Linked DNA regions of Homo sapiens: all the other regions are linked to region 4. Evidence: fine-mapped expression QTL. A gene starts in region 4. Each other region holds a variant in brackets. All regions are shown on one strand. Distances are between the middles of the regions.

Region 1 (2,688 bases), 23 kb before region 4:
TGGGGAGGGTGGGAGTCTAATTAGGTAAACAGATACATGCACAGAGAAACTTATTACGGTGTTATTTTATAACAGTAAAAAAAAGTATGGGAAACAAACTGATAACATGCGCAGTTCTGTAAACTATGGTATATCCACCAGATGGGTAGATCTGTTTACAGGGAGTCTGTCAAACCTGAGTATAAACATGTATATACAATCTTATCAAAATTATATATTTTTAAATACAGAAGCAAATATGAAATCTGCACAATTCAAAAGGTTTGGAAGTAAATATACCAATCTTGGTAGTGACAGGTTTTTGGTACAGAGATTTAGAGTGACTTTTCTTGCCTTTTTATGTTATTTTCAGGTTCATCGTAAGGACTATCGTGTACACAACTTTTCTAATCAGCAAAAAATAAACACACTTTATAAGGAAATAAACAAACATAAAGATGCCATATGGAATCTTTTGGTTTGGGAGATGGCTGAGACTAGGATAACTCAGATCAAAAATACAATAAATTATCTCAGTTACCAAAAAAAAAAAAAAAGGGTGGGGCTGACTGGTAAGGGACCTACATTTCATACCCTTCTTAAGTTTGCTGGTTTCTGCCCAGGATTTCCATTAGAGCTGGAGAATAGGAGCTGAGTTAATTTTCCCAGGGGCGCTGAAATCCTGACATTGGTACATTCCCTGTCATGCATTTATTCTCATTCTTAATGCCATGGTGACCATAAATGTGAATTAAAACTTGAAGTATTTAGCATTTATTAAGCACTTCCTATGCACAGGCACTGTTTTGGTGCTTTTTATACCTTTATTTCACCTTTCTCAGGCTTGCGAAAGCTCTTAGTAAAAAGAACTATTGTCTCCTTCCTCCCCGCTCCCCCACGTCAGCCTGTTCTACACACTCCTTTCTTCTACTCACAGAGAGTGCCTTTTAGGAATATAATTGATTTGGATAAAAGAAAAAAAATGGGCCAAATAGGCTGCCATTTGTTATCAATAAAGCCTCGCAGCTGCCTGAACGGTTGACTAAATAAGCACCTTCAAATGGTCAGAACAGGGAAGGTTCTAGAAATAGGGCACCAGAAAATCCCACAGGCTTTCTGCTTGTGATGTGGCTTATTTGCTTTACAGGCGTCAAGCATATTTGCTGACGTCAGCAGCCCATCAAAGTTTAAAATAATAATAGTGAAAAGGAAAACAGCCCCTTTCTTCCAGGCAGTTCTGTTCTGCCAACTTCTGC[G/C]TTCTTTTTGAGTTAATAAACGTCCAAGAATCACTCCCCTACCACCCTGAGGGGGAAAAACAGCACAATAATTTTAAAACCACCAGGTCAGCCCATTGTCAGCATAAACCATTCAGACAAGTAGCATTTTGTCACACTCTAATGAGGATTTTACCTCTGCCTCAAAATGAAAGCTATCATTAGGTTTCGTGTTTATGGGATCAAATGATTGTCTGGGGATGGTGGGTTTTTTTCAGTCCCTTCCTCATTTTTATCATGTTCAAGACCAAATGCATAGACATTTCCTGCATCAGATGAAACTAAAAAACCATAGTTATGCCAGCTAATGTCTTTTGAAAACATCAATTAAGAAAATGGCCTTTAAATTCCCATTTTTACTTGAAAATCTGCAAACAGGCACACATGTTGTAATACCAGGGCAGTGGTGGTGGTAGTGCGGGGCGGGTGGGGGGTGCTGTCTCTAAAAAGGAGACAGCACAAACAGTGGTTTGAGGAGGTCATAAGGGCAGGCTCCCATTGGCAACAAGCAGATAGAGAATCTCTGCAAGGGAAGGAACTTCTGTATAAAGCAAGACCTCTTAAGTTATCTTCACATGTAGTGTTGAAACTGGAGCCAGCCCCTCAAGAGTAGGTTGATAAGAGGCTTCTGCACCATGCTGGTACCACACACATGCCCCATTGTTAATAACCTTCTCAGGACAGATTAGATCCCACATTCCTCAGAAGTACTGAGCTGCAGAGGGAAATCGGCCAGCAGGCTCCTTCCGCGGGGCCAACAACTAGCTACAACTGATAAGTTTTAATTGAAACAACTGGAACAATTACATGGAGTCCCCACCAGCTCTGTCGCCAGCTACTGAGATGGTGTTGCACTTGCATCTCCTGGCATGTGCATAGGCGTGTGCCAGACAAGAGTAATTCAAGTTCTTAACTCACTTTTTATCTTTTTTTCCATGACTACGTGCCATCGTTAATCACATTGTTCACCCAAGGAGTACTATGAGATTGTTTTATTTTTTTCTTTTCTGTCCTTATCTAGGAAACCCTGATATTTACACTATCTCAATTTAAGTTTGAACAAGTAACTGATTAATCTCTGACAAAACATACTGAAGTTAGACGAGTTTGGGTAAAATCCGTTAAGGTCATGGTTGGTTTTAATCACATAGCTCAATTTAAAAGCTGAACACTAAAACATCTTTGCTTTCAAAGAGTGCTTGTTAGACAGCAAGTTTTGTTTTGCGTAACTTGAATTCTGCTACTTCCTTTTATTTTTTTCTGAAATAACAGTGATTGAGTCAATGAAGTGGCAATACGAATTAAAGGGCAACTCACCTGCCTTTGAAGGGACAGATCCCAAAGGGCCCAGATTAAATTTTAACCACGATTATGTTTGCCAGGATTTTATATCTCAAATGATTATGTTTGGCTTTTGTAATAATAAAAGGTTATT
Region 2 (2,688 bases), 63 kb before region 4:
TAGTACAAAGTAAATACTGTGCATCTGACACACAGGAATAAAAGGACCATGAAATCACTTGTCAAAAATCTTAGCAGTTTAGAAAAACCAGGCAGAAAGTTGCTGCAGGGTCGGATGGGTCACTTTCTTAAAGTTCCCACAGATAGGGCTGACTGCAGCTTTCACAACTGTAGAAAACACAGGAGGAAATTCAAAGAGCGAACCACGATGGTGGATTCCTAACTCTTGGTCAGACCCGCCCTCTAAGTGGTAGCTCAGCTAGTCTGCCCATGGTGGGCACCAGGCAACTTCCATGGAGAGGGGATATGCCCACTCACGTCCCCTCCTGGTCAATACTTATAGGCATGTCAGCAAAAAGACTTGTTTAAAAATAAAGAGTCCACAATATATGATGACCCATACACATGTTTCAAACTGTGAAGCATAAATATACTTATTGTAGGGAAAAAATAGTACACAATGAAAACAACCACATGGGCCTGGGGTTCACTACCTGCCCCTTTCCACTAGGACAAGACAAAAGGCCTTTGACATTCTCTTCCCTGAATCTGTTCTGCAATCTCTTCTTCAGTTATCCTTGTGATTCATCCATGGATCTCCTGCATGCTGTGCTGGGTCACGTGCCACCAGGATCCTTCACAGGGCACATCCTGTCATTGTATCAGGTCTGAAGCAGTAATAGTCAGTGAGCTCTCTCGGTCCTTCCTCCTGCAAAGTCTTCATCTTCCTAACTCTGACCTTTACTGTTCTTGTTTCTAATTGCACAACAAATGTAATGTGTAGGCTGTATTTCTCCTCCAGTGAAAATCCACTTGGTCCAGTGCCTGCTGCTAGTAAACCTAGCTAGTAAGGTTAGAAAACCTCTGCTCTTCATCATGCTGAAAGAGATGGCCTTTATAGCCCTCTTTAACTGCTGATGGGAATAGGACAACTTCTAGGCTGGCTGCCTTGGCTCCCCCATCCCCGTTATTCATAAGGTTTTACTCTAAATCGTTCCTGCACCCCACTGTTAAGTGTCCTGCCAGATGCATCAAGGGGATTTACAATCACCCATTTGTGCACTCCATGGACTTTCCTGCTTAGTTCTGTAATTCCCTCTGCTTACGTAGATGAAACCCATTGTTACACTTGTG[C/T]GCTTACCCATGTGCTTAGTGCTAGCAATTCTGAGCACTCGATATTGTCATGAGAAAATACTACAAGATTGCAACCCAGCTCTCTGCACAGGCAGGCCTATCCTCCCCGCAGTAGCATATGAGCTCCATGAAAGCTACAATCTAGAATGCTACATCCCAGTGTCTTGAACTGTGCCTGACATGTAGTAGGCACCCAATAGACATGGGTGGAACAGATGATTGAGTTGATGAGCAGAAAAAAACAAGAGGCATGTTGCATCTTCTGTGCACAAAATCCCACCAGCAAAGGAACCTATGTACAAGCTTCTTTTTTTGTTAAAGGCCTCCCCTTACACCTCGCCAACCCCACACCCTTTTTCAATACACAATCTCCTGGAAAAAAAAAAATCCCTGTGTGATCTTTAAATATTACCCTTGTGCTGGCACCTTCTTTGCCAAAGGCAGGAAAAACTCGTCTATCAAGTTTCCCTTCATTTGAGCAGAGGCAACTATCTACAGCTTTGGAACTATGGCTCTCTCACCAGCAGCTGAGCACTTTGATCTTCATGCCATTCCCCGAAATAAAGAGGCAGAAGCCAAACCGTAGCCTGGTCTCAGCTCTCCTAGCCTCAAGCTGCATGAGGCAGAACCATCCAAAGGGCCAGGCATCCATGGACATCTGGCAGAGAGGGCGCAACCCCCTCTGGGCTCCAGCAGCTCTCAGCGGTGCTCCTTTGAGGTTCTTTGTCCCCAGGGAGTCTAGTATGTGTGGCCAAGAGTTTCACTGGCTCTTTGACTGTAGCAAGCATCTTAACTTAGTTAAACCTCAGTTTTCTTATCTATAAAATTAGAATAACAATAGTATCTGCCTCACAGGATCATTATGAGAAATAAATAAGACAGTATACACAAAGTGCTTGGCACAAAGTAAGAGCTCAATAAATGATAGCTATTATTATTCCTGCTTGGTATGATTTGTTCATGCACTTTTGTTGTAAACAAATAAACAAATGCAACCTGCAATCTGAAATAAATAGAAAAAGCTCACCTATCATTATTAATTCATTCAACAAAGACTGTGTCAGGCCCCAGATGAGACAGGCAAGGTTTTCAAAGTTTTGGTGTTGAGTCTTTAAGTCGTCTGGGTCTTCACTTAAGTTGATCCCTGGAATCATAAGTACTCTCTGTTTGCGTTTCTCTCTCTCAGTGCCCACAACTCAGCTGAATGTAATGTTTCAGGACACTTTCCTGAACTGGACACATCTTAGGCTGGATCCTTTGGAAGGCAAATTCTGACATTAGCGTTTAGGAAATTTGTAAGAGAGTTCTCTAGGGATTAATACCTGTGGAAGAGAGAAGAAGAAAGCAGACTGGTCAGAGGGAGAGTCCAACAAAGCAATGCAGTCCCAGCAAAGGCCTCAGAAACTCCACAGACATGTCCCAAATTGGAGAGAGTGGGCTGGACCTTTATACCTCCAAGTTGAATGACTCACTGGATGTAGGCTGCCTCTGGAAGGTGTGACCCTGGATGAGACAGTTTTCTTCAGCCAAAACAATCCCCAGCCCAGAGACGGCT
Region 3 (2,688 bases), 180 kb before region 4:
TGTGTTTTGTCAACCACAGGGCATGGTGAGCCATGGTTGATCCCAAAACCTCGTGTAAAATTTCTTAGCACTGAGATCCGGGGCCCTGGTGTCTCTGCACTGTTTCTCTGATCTGCCCACTTCTTGCTTTGACTGATCTTTAAAAAAGACTGTCAAAGGTGGACTTTCTTCTGCAGTGGCCACTGAAGCTCTTCCCTTTCAATCAGACCTTTCCTAGCACAGATGAAAACTCAGCTCCTCCAAGGAGCATAGGAAAAGTTACCTAAAGGGATAGCCCTGCTCAGATGTGTAAAGTTTACATGTTAGTCATACCAAGTTTATAAAAGCAAGCATACCTACTCTGGAAGAAGGAAACTGGAAGACCTGCTGCACCTTTTACCTGAGATAAATAGCTGGGGGATGTTGCAACAACCCTGAACCCCTTCTGGGAAAGGGTGCGCTGTTTATCTTTGGAGTCCGCCAGCATGGTGGTGAATGCTAAGGCTGCAAGCTCCACACCCTTTTTGCATTGCTTCCTTCTGACATGCAGCCTCTTGCTGTCAGGTCCCAGCCTGCAGTGCCACAGTGGGCTGCTGGACAGGAGAAATGGTACTTTTCATGTGGTCAGTGTGGGCTTCCGTCCAGCAAGGCAACACTGTGCGTCCTTTGAGGCTTGATTTCTTTAGTTTTTGGAGCTAAGCCAAATGGCAGTGCCAGGGAGAAGGCACTGCCCTGTAATGTGTGGATGCTCTTGTCAGTCAAGGCTAAAAAGACTCCAGCTAGGACATTTCTGGTGAAAGGTGCTTTTCAGCCCTGGGGCATTTGCATTCTGAGTGAGGGCCCAGCCCGATGGAAGAGGACCTCCCTGTGTGTAGGAGCAAAGTTTCACTCATAATCAAATCTATGGGAGGTAGGGGGTAGAAAGAGGGGTGAGAGAGAGGAAAATCCTAGTTGTGGCTATTCTGGCCCCGTTCAGAAATGGCTCACTCATTGAGGGGGACACTTTCCTGGAATTCCTTCTCTTCAGACTTGAAGGTATGAAAAACTATGAAAAAAAAAAA[G/AG]GAAGAAAAAGAAAAAATGGAACATAAAGGAAAACAGTACTTTTAGGCATTCTCCTCTTTGGGAAGTTGGCGCTAGTCACACACACTAACTAGAAATCTCTGTTTACATCATGCAGACACAATGGGCTGAAAGTGAACCAAGCAACGAGATCTCTGTGTGTGTGTGTCTCTCTGTCTCTGTCTCTGTGTCTCTTACACTATCTCTCTCTGTTTCTCTGTATCTCTTTCTGTGTTTCTCTATCTCTCTGTGTCTCTGTCACTGTTTCTCTTTCTCTGTCTCTGTCTGTTTCCCTGTCTCTGTGTCTCTGTCCCCCTCCCTTTGCATATGTGTGTATGGGTTCCAATGGACCAATAGCCAGTTCTCTTTTGTTTTGATTTTATTTTAGTAAAAAGCAAAGAAAGTCCCTGATAAATAAAGCTGAATTAATGGGAATTGTCTCATCTATTCCTGAATGCAGTCTTCAGAACCAGACAGAAATGGATTCAAATTATGTTTGGCAGCTTCATGACTTTGGCTAATTCATATAATCTCCCTGAATACCAGGTGAGAATTTGTCACTGATAAAATTAGACTATCAAGCCTGGTTCATGGTTGGGTGGTGCGATTAGATGAGGTAGCTGTGTAAAGCTCCTTAGCTCAGTGGGGGATGTGTGGAAGTGAGGCTGCAGGAAGAGACATTGGCTTGGGCTGGCAGCCTTGGAAGCCGTAGGAAGTGTCTTGTTTTTATTCCCAAAGCAAAGAGAAATCAGCAAAGGTTTTAAAGAAGCTAGTGAGGGGTGGTTTTGATGTGGAGAAGGCATTGTTGAGGGTGGGAAGGGCCAAGACCAGAGGTGGGGGGACCTATTAGGAATTACTGCAGTGGCCCAAGTGACTTGACATTCTAGGGGCTTTGATTTTGATTTCCTGGCTTTTGGCACTGCACCTGTTCCTAACTCTGTGAAAAGATTTGACCTTCAGGTTCCTAATCTTTGACCCACCCTGTTACTAAGCTTACTCCTGGATTAAATGAAGCTCTGGTTCAGTTTTGTTAATTCAGTATTTACTAAGTACCTATCATGTGCTAAGAACTCTACTGGCTGAATATAGAGTTTAATGTAGAAACAGTAAATAGGTTTCAACTACTCACTGGTAGAGTCTGTATTGAAAGGATTAAGAGGGCCAGGATTGATTAGCCATGTTTGCTGTGGGTGAGGAGAGTGCTGGCAGCATGTTTGTCACACATTTGCCATCTCCGATCCAGTGACTCCCACCTCCTATATTCCACCCTCGCTTGATCCTGGCTCTCCTCAGACCATCTTCTTATCTTCAAAGAGTTCCCATGAGTCTGGACACAGTAGCAAGCGTCTGTAGTTGCTGCTTGCCTAGGAAGTATTGGAAAAGAGGCATTCTTTCAGCATGGAGACTGCTAAACCAGAAGTGTGTTAGCTGACGAGGGCATCCACATGGAGAGAACATGCCAGGCAATAAGCAGAGATGAAGACAGAGTTAAGAGATGCAGAGGCTGAGCAGGAGTGACCATCCAGGCCTGGAGCCAGTAACACCAGAAGCGCTCATCATGGGAGAGGTATGGATGTGTGTGCCCACAAATGGGGTGAATTGTGTGTCCTGGAAAGGCTTGAAACTTGTGTGTCCTGGAAAGGCTTGAAT
Region 4 (2,688 bases):
AGCGGTGCAATCTCGGCTCACTGCAACCGCCGCTTCCCGGGTTCAAGCGATTCTCCTGCCTCAGCCTCCTGAGTAGCTGGAACTACAGGTACACACCACCACACCCGGCTAATTTTTATATTTTTAGTAGAGACAGGGTTTCACGATGTTGGCCAGGCTAGTCTTGAACTCCTGACCTCAAGTGATCCACACCCGCCCCCCCCCGGTTTGGCCCCCCACAGTGCTGGGATTACAGGCGTGAGCCACCACACCCCGTCGCCTAACTCTATTTCTAAAAGCTCTGCCAGTTGGAGATTTCTCTAGCCCACTAGAGTTTCTGGCTTTGGGGGACAGGGAGGGAAGGGAGGGGAAGCTGTGTTATAAGAAGAAAGTTTAAAAAGTAAGCATAAATTATTTGAGCTTTTAAGAGACATTAACAAGCTACCATACTGAGGGTATTAAGAACACTAAAATTTGTTTGGCTTTGGATAGGGAAGCTACTGAAATTGAAGAAGAAAAGATGGGACTGAATGAGCACTCCTTGGGTTGGAGAAAAACCAACATGATCATTATCTAATCATCATCATAATAATGATAATGGACATTTGTATAGCACTTGGCAGTTTACAAGTTACTTTCTTATAATAATAATTACCACTATATGGTACATTACAGTAACAAATACTTTTTAGGGCTTTACCCCGTTCCACTGTAAAAGTTGGTATTAGTGGAGGATGTAAATAGACTTATCTACATGATTAAGGAACTAGGAGGAGTGGAGGTTCAACACCAGCAGTTGGACAGCAAACATCTTAGAAGACCAGGCACATCTTCAGCCACACCCTTGGGTTCAACTTGGTGGTCTCCTGGTTGGGGTCAGGAGCAGAAGTGGGGCCATGGCCTCCACTTCCCTTCCTGGGCAATGTGCCTTTCTTTCATCACCATGGAGTCCTTGCCTTTGTTTTGTTTCTCCTTGTCATTTATTTCCATTAACATGCAGTGGTTTTTGTCCTTTCTCTTCCCGATTGTCACTTTCCTCACCTAGATAGAGAAGAACCAGCCCTCACCTAGCTCACTAGTCTGTATCAGGCTCAAATGAGGTGATGTATGTAAAAAGGTTTTGAGACGTTAAAAAGCACAGTCCAGAAATACCTGAAAGCATGTAAACTCTTACGATTTGGGGGCTTAGCAGGACCAGGAATTTGATCTCATTGCCTCCAGGTCATATCATGACCCTCTAGGATCCCTCCTCCCTGTCACACATCCCTCTATGGGCACATTGATTCCAGGATTTCCAGAGTACATCAGGGCTGAGCCGACCTCATGGCCCTCGTGGATTGTCTCTGATATGGTTTGGCTCTGCGTCCCTACCCAAATGTTATCTTGAATTATAATCCCCACATGTTAGGGAGGGACCTGGTGGGAGGTGACTCAATCGTGGTGCGGTTTGCCCCATGCTGTTCTCGTGATGATGAGTGAGTTCTCACGAGATCTGACGGCTTAAAAGTGTGGCACTTCCTACCTCACTCTCTCTCTCTCTCCTGCTGCATTGTGAAGAAACTGCTTGCTTCCCTCTCACCCTCTGCAGTTTCCTGAGGCCTCCCCAGCCATGCGGAACGGTGAGTTAATTAAACCTCCTTTCTTTATAAACTACTCCGTCTCGGGTAGTTCTTTTTTTTTTTTTTTTTTTTTGGAGACGGAGTCTCATCTGTTTCCCAGGCTGGAGTGCAATGGCGTGATCCCGGCTCAGTGCAACCGCCGCCTCCCGAGTTCAAGTGATTCTCCTGCCTCAGCCTCCCGAGTAGCTGGGATTACAGGCGCCCGACACTATGCCCAGCTAATTTTTGTATTTTTAGTAGAGATGGGATTTCACCAGGTTGGCCAGGCTCGTCTCCAACTCCTGATCTCAGCTGGTCCACCCGCCTCGGCCTCCCAAAGTACTGAGATTACAGGCGTGAGCCAACATGCCTGGCCCTCAGGTAGTCCTTTATAGCAGTGTGAAAACGGACTAATACAGTCTCCCTGGTTTCTCACAGTTTTCTTCCATTTCATTGCTCTGTCCTTGTCTCACCTGAGTTGGGTATTTCCTCAGAGAATATTAAATATTTTTGCTGTCAATCTAGAATTGTAATTAGATAAGTTGGCAGCCAAAAGAAAAGAAACTTCATGAATTATAAAGCCCGATATTAAATGAATTTTTTGAACATTTGGTAAAGTTTATACCTTGTCTGGCTTCTTTGTTCCTTTCTCAAAACAATGATTTTCTCTTTCAAATATCTTATTCTCCGTTAAATTTTCATTTACAACCAGAATGTGGCTTTTTTCCCTAGTCTGAGAGTCCTGACATCATCTTAACTAGGGAGTTTGTGGTTATTTGTAGCCAGGGACTAATGAGCAACAACAACAAAATGTCAGAAATACTTAGAGGATGAAACAGATTATTAAATTCTATTTTGTTACTAGCATGTCCATAAATTAATCTACCACCAATTTTAGCCATACATTGAAAGTCAGTAACCTTGTGAAATCCATGTAACTCAGTTTTCCAGAGAAAAAGATAATGTTTACTAAATCAATCACTGTTTGTTTGTTTGTTTGTTTATTTTAGGCCAGATGCAGTGCCTCATGCCTGTAATCCCAGCACTTTGGGAGGCTGAGGGAGGATTGCTTGAGGTAAGGAGTTCGAGACCAGCCTGGGCAATACAGTGA

The links. PIP is the estimated chance that this variant, and not a neighbour inherited with it, causes the effect.
Region 1: its variant is fine-mapped to the expression of LINC00958 in whole blood (INTERVAL, PIP above 0.99).
Region 2: its variant is fine-mapped to the expression of LINC00958 in thyroid (GTEx, PIP above 0.99).
Region 3: its variant is fine-mapped to the expression of LINC00958 in prefrontal cortex (ROSMAP, PIP 0.95).

What each region holds. Positions count from the first base shown.
Region 1 is chr11:13,011,791-13,014,478 of GRCh38, reverse strand. It overlaps RASSF10 (Ras association domain family member 10), which reads right to left. Exons shown (of 1, transcript NM_001080521.3): 1 at 2,360-2,688. Among named protein-coding and RNA genes, the nearest start is that of RASSF10, 3.8 kb to the right of the region's middle. The variant G/C (reference allele first, on the strand shown) is at 1,236.
Region 2 is chr11:13,051,385-13,054,072 of GRCh38, reverse strand. No RefSeq gene overlaps it. Among named protein-coding and RNA genes, the nearest start is that of RASSF10, 43 kb to the right of the region's middle. The variant C/T (reference allele first, on the strand shown) is at 1,134.
Region 3 is chr11:13,166,332-13,169,019 of GRCh38, reverse strand. No RefSeq gene overlaps it. Among named protein-coding and RNA genes, the nearest start is that of BMAL1, 110 kb to the left of the region's middle. The variant G/AG (reference allele first, on the strand shown) is at 1,041.
Region 4 is chr11:12,988,366-12,991,053 of GRCh38, reverse strand. LINC00958 (long intergenic non-protein coding RNA 958) reads left to right here and starts at 1,506. Exons shown (of 2, transcript NR_038904.1): 1 at 1,506-1,598.